2 separate regions of the Homo sapiens genome follow, and region 2 is linked to region 1. Evidence: fine-mapped expression QTL. Tissue or cell type: adrenal gland. Region 1 holds a variant in brackets; the other region holds the start of a gene. All regions are shown on one strand. Distances are between the middles of the regions.

Region 1 (2,755 bases):
TCTTGGTACTCGAGCGGTCGCAGCAGATTCTTTCTCTTCTGAAGTTCCTCTCTTTCTGTTTATCTAGCGACCTCCTCCAGGGGCACACCCATTAGCTTGTGGGTCTTCTGTAGTCCCCTCAGGAACGTGGGAGAGTCACAGTCTGTAGCATTTGACTTGAAGCTGGAAAGCCCTAGTAAGACCCAATAGTGTTGATTTGGGGACTTCTTTTGGCCTGGACTCTGGTGGGGGGTGTCCAGCCCTAGATGCCCTCAGGGTCCCAGGCCCATGCTGTGTGACTTTCTCCCCACACACTCCCCTCCTGCTTGGGCGCTGGAATCCAGGAGGAATAGGGGACAGTGAGTGGCAAGGACTGCCTTGTGGTGGGACGGACATCATAGAAAGCAGCACATAGTCTGCAGATGGAGGGAAATAGGCAGGGCCAAGCTGTCGCTTTGCCTTGAGAGTGACCATGATGGAGCTTGACCAGTTCATGACCTGTGCGCTAACCTTGGTCTTTTTTTAATGTGTTTGTTTGAAACAGGGTCTCACTCTGTCACCTAGGCTGATCTCAAACTCCTGGGCTCAAGCAATCATCCTGTCTCAGCCTCCCAAAGTTCTGGGATTACAGGCATGAGCTGACACAGTACCTGGCCTTGGTCTGTCTTTCTTTCTTTCTTTCTTTCTTTTTCTTTCTTTCTTTCTTTCTTTCTTTCTTTCTTTCTTTCTTTCTTTCTTTCTTTCTTTCTCTTTCTTTCTTTCTTCTCTCTCTCTCTTTCTTTCTTTTTCTTTCTTTCTTTCTCTCTCTCTCTTTCTCTCTTTCTTTCTTTCTTTCTTTTTCTTTTTTTGAGAGAGAGTCTCACTCTGTTGCCCAGGCTGCAGTGCAATGGTGTGATCTTGGTTCACCGCAACCTCCGTCTCCCGGGTTCAAGTGATTCTGCTGCCTCAGCCTCCCGAGTAGCTGGGATTACAGGCATCTGCCACCAGGCCCAGCTAATTTTTTTTGTTTTTTCTTTTTGGTTTTTTTAGTAGAGACGGGGTTTCACCATGTTAGCCAGGATGGTCTCGATCTCCTGACCTCATGATCTGCCCGCCTTGGCCTCCCAAAGTGCTGGGATTACAGGCATGAGCCACTGCGCCCAGCCTGGCCTTGGTCTTTCTTAATCCCCAGATGGAACCCCCTCTGCCCCCACCAGCTTCCCCTTCAAGACCCTGCCCAGCACCAGGCTCCCACCCCTCAAGCTCAGATCAGGCCCTGCTCCCACTTGTCTCCTGGATCCTCAGACACCTGCAGTAGGACCAGGGGCTTGCCCAGCAGCAGATGGTTCCAAACAAGGCAAGATTCTTGGAGTAGCAGAAAATATTTCTGCACCCACCATGTACCAGCACAGAGCCGTGGGGAAGCTGCTTCTCTGCAAAATGGGAGTAACAGGACCTGCCATGCAACGTTGCTGTGAGGACTGGTTAAATCAATTATCATTAAGAAAATAAAACTTGGGAAATTCCCAGGCACAACCTTTCTGAACCTCTGCATGGCAGGGTAACAGCAATTATCTAGAGGCCTATTGAGAGAACCAAATAGTGACAATGGCGGGGACAGAATGCTCAGACAGGCCAGGCACCATGTCAAGCACTTCACTGCATCATCTCAATCTTCACATCAGCCTCCATGGTAGGCACCACGGCCACTGACCCCA[C/A]CTCACGGGTGAGAGCTGTGGCACAGAGAGGTTCCGTCCTCATAACACAAATGGGGAAGTTAGGATTTGACTCGTACAGCCCAGCTCCTGAGCCTGCATGGTTAAGCCTTGGGCTGCGGCTACCTCAGAACTGGAAGCACTTCATAAGGCTCCATGTACAAGTTAGTTATTATAAGTCACTTGTGGGGCTAGGGTGGGGGATCCCAGCTAGCAGCCTCCGCACTGACCGGTGGCTGAACCCAGGCTGGGCTGTCTGCCCTGGGAGCAGGGCGATGCCTGGGGACTGATGGCCCCGTGTCCTCTCAGCCGGGCGCTGGGAGGGCCTAAGGCCACCTTCCTGTGGTCTCTGCTGTGGTGCAGGCAGGGGCCACCACCAAGGAAGGTGGGATCCAGCCTGTCTGGGCAGGTCTGCTCTGCCGAGATCCGGCCGGCTCTCCAGTGGCTGGGATGCCCCAGAGCGGACAGGCGAGCACGTCCCGTCCCGAGCACAGGCCCCTGCCCGGGAGGCCCCGCTAATGACCCCGTGCATTCCGGCTTGCATGGCCCGGGAATTGGCTGTGGGCAGGCCCATTAGCTGGAATCCTCCCAATGCTCACACATCAGAGTGGAGGGGGGAGAAGTGAAAAGTTGAAAAAGAGCTAATTATCGCTTTTATCAGAGCGGGTGGGTTGATGGGTCCTGCCCGAGGGCAGCTGGGACTGCATTAAAGATTAAACGCCAGGTGGGGGGAGTGAGCTCGTCATTCCACAGGAGGGGGGCCGGCTGGCGGCCCCACGGAGACCTGGTGGCAGGCGGCAGCCTTAGATCTGTCAGCCAAGCCCTCTGTCCCAGCACCCACCACAGCCACATTCCACCAGGGGACCCCCGCAGTGCCGGCACTTCCGCCCCATGGGGAGGGCAGCTGAAGTCCAGGTCTGCTCCCTCAAGGGCTGTAGGGTCGGGGCAAGCCTAATTATCCAATTGGTAGGTTTCCTGGCACCTGTCTTAGGGGGACTTAATGACCCCTGCACATCAGCCAGTGACCTTCTGTGTAAACCTACATTGGAATCTTATGAGGCCTGGCAAAACCCAAGGTCGGG
Region 2 (2,500 bases), 44 kb after region 1:
CTGCCGAGGGAACAACCATTCCTTCAAGCCTGAAATCTTCGGAAACAAACAAGTTGTGCACTGCTGTTGGGGTGGATCGCAAAAGGATCAGTCATATCAAGTTCAACCCCTTCTTTGTACAAAAGGAGAAAGTGAGGCCCAGAGACTGAGTGGTCTTCCCATATCATTAGCAAGCTAAGCCCAGAGCTAGGGTCTGGGATGATACCCTCCTCCACAGCCCAGACATGTTTCCACCAGGGGTCATGACCTGGAAATTAGCCCACAGCCCTTACTCCAACCTGTGCAGAACTTCTCAGACCTTTACATACCTCTCCCTGGCTACTTCTTCAAAGCAGCCTCTAGCAGGTCACTTGCTTGGTGTTTTCTTGCCTTTGCTGTATATACTCAGACTGTAAGCCTCCTATTGATTTGGGGTGAAGATTTTAAAAGGAGGCAAGGCTTAAAGTAACAGGCTGTACATATTGGAGTTGGCTTTGGGTGGATGGTGGGAAGGTGCCTTCTTACCCATGATACCCGCCCCCATCCCTCACCAAATCCCTGCAATTCAGGGTCAGAGAAGAAGGGACTGGAAACAATTGCCCTATAACTTTTGCTCCAAACATTCCCCACATAGTTCCTGTCCGGCTCTCTCCCCAGTGTCACCTACCCCACTGTCCCCCAGGTGTCACCCCCCACTGTGATCCTCCTTTTCCAACCATGTACACACACACACACACACACACACACACACACACACACACACACACACACACTGGGCCCTCTCACTCTTTCCAGTGTTCTCCTGAGAAATCACCCCATGCCAGGTCTGAGATGTGGTCGCATTTCCCCAGCGCACGGTTCCTTCCTGCGTCTCCAGCTGGCGCTCTCACCGTCCGAGGTTTCCCCCATTCTCCCTGGACGCGCACGATCCTCTGCCCCGAGACCGGGAACAGCCCGTCCCACCCATCCACCCAGCCCTCTCGGTCTCCGCTCCGCAGGGCGAAGGCGGAGGGTGGGGAAGGAGTCCGAGGCAAGGACGGCTCGCCGGAGGCCAGGATGGCGGCAGACAGGGCACCGGCGTGAGGATCCCGAGAGGGCATCAGAGAGCGGGACTGACGCCTGAACGGGCGGGGCCGGGGCGGACGGGGCCAGGGTCCGAGGCGTGCGCAGAGTCCGAGACCCGGCGGGATGAGGAGAGCGGCGGCTGGGGGGCGACCAGAGACTCGGACACTGAACAGGGCGATGGATTCGGAGCCGGGGAAGCTGGAGACCGAACTCAGGGCGCGAACTCCGACTGCGAAGTGGGTTGGGTCGCGCCGGGCTAGGGTCTGAGTTCGAGACCTCGGCGGGGCCAAGGACAGCGGGAGGGAAAAATTGGCCCAGCTGTAGCGCAGGAGGGAGAGACAGGCAGGCCGGGGAGCGGGCGGGGGGCGCGGCGGGCACTGACCCGAAGTAGGAGGCGGCGGCGGCGGGCAGCGCCAGCAGGCAGAGCCCGGCCAGGGCCAGCGCGGGCGGGGGGCGCATGGTGCTGGCGGCGCTGCGCCCTCTAGCATCTCCTCGCGCCGCTCAAGCTCGCAGCTCCGCCACCACCCGCCCGCGGGACTTTAAACCCGGGTGGGGCGGGGCAGGCGGCGCTGGGAAAGGAGGAGATTGGGAGGCTCCCCAGCCCCGGGCGGCGAGCCCCCCGCCCCATTGGCCCCACCGCCCTCGCCCCGCCCCGTCGCGGGTGGGGCAGCCGCCCCTGGACCGCCCCCGCCCCTCCCCCATTGCCCCGCCCTCCGGCCCCAGGTGAGCGCTCACCTGGCGCCGCGCCCGCCCGGGGTCGCGGTGGCTGAACGTGAAGCCCCCCGGGCCTGGAGAGGCGGGGAGGAGGGTACGAGGCGGGGACGGAGGAGATTCTGCCTCTCCGGGATGGGGCGGAGGCAAGCGCAATGGCTTCTCCGAGGTAGAGAAGGTGGAGGGGTAGGAGGAGGGACGCATCTGGAGTCGGTGGAAAACCCGGGTCATTGTCCGCCCTCCTGCCGGGCAAGTGCGGTCTCTTCGCCGCAGCCCGCAGACTCAGGGCAGGGCCGGGTCCTGGTGCAGAACCGCTCTCTGGAAGCGGGGGAAATGCATGTCCAATGGCTCAGGGGACCCTGTTGCCAGGCAAAGAGTCTTGGGCAGAGGGGAGAGAGGAAAGGGCGCTCTGTTTTTAAACGGGAGAGTGACTGTTACCGGCGAGGCGCGCAGCGTGGGCCTCCGTGGGCTTTTGACAAAATGCTGCTGATGTTCCCCAGCGCAGAAATCCAAAGTGGACAGTGGGGCAGACAGAGCCCTGCGGGAGGAGGGACCCACTTTCCAAGGTGTGTAGATGCCAGAATCTCTGGTAGATAGGGTGGGAACTTCAAGTGTTGGGCCCCAAAGTTCTGTTTTGCTTATTATTTTTTAAAGTTTAACCCCAATTTCTGCTGCGAAGGTGCAGAGATCAAAGCGGCGCGTGGTACCTGTCTAGAAAGGAGACATACAACCAATGACCCAAGTG

Direction of the effects. Positions count from the first base shown, and alleles are read on the strand shown. Sizes are in standard deviations (SD) of each study's normalised expression.
With allele C in place of A in region 1, the expression in adrenal gland of the gene that starts at base 1,559 in region 2 is lower (moderate effect, 0.42 SD a copy in GTEx).

What was found. PIP is the estimated chance that this variant, and not a neighbour inherited with it, causes the effect. A credible set is the group of variants that fine-mapping cannot tell apart.
Region 2: it holds the start of WNT9B, and the variant in region 1 is the best candidate, but not a certain one, in a credible set for the expression of WNT9B in adrenal gland (GTEx, PIP 0.62).

What each region holds. Positions count from the first base shown.
Region 1 is chr17:46,894,366-46,897,120 of GRCh38, reverse strand. It overlaps a transcript of LRRC37A2 not described here. Among named protein-coding and RNA genes, the nearest start is that of LINC01974, 17 kb to the left of the region's middle. RefSeq lists an enhancer at 2,137-2,755. The variant C/A (reference allele first, on the strand shown) is at 1,677.
Region 2 is chr17:46,850,642-46,853,141 of GRCh38, reverse strand. It overlaps WNT9B (Wnt family member 9B), which reads right to left and starts at 1,559. Exons shown (of 4, transcript NM_003396.3): 1 at 1,427-1,559. The coding sequence starts at 1,503. It also overlaps a transcript of LRRC37A2 not described here.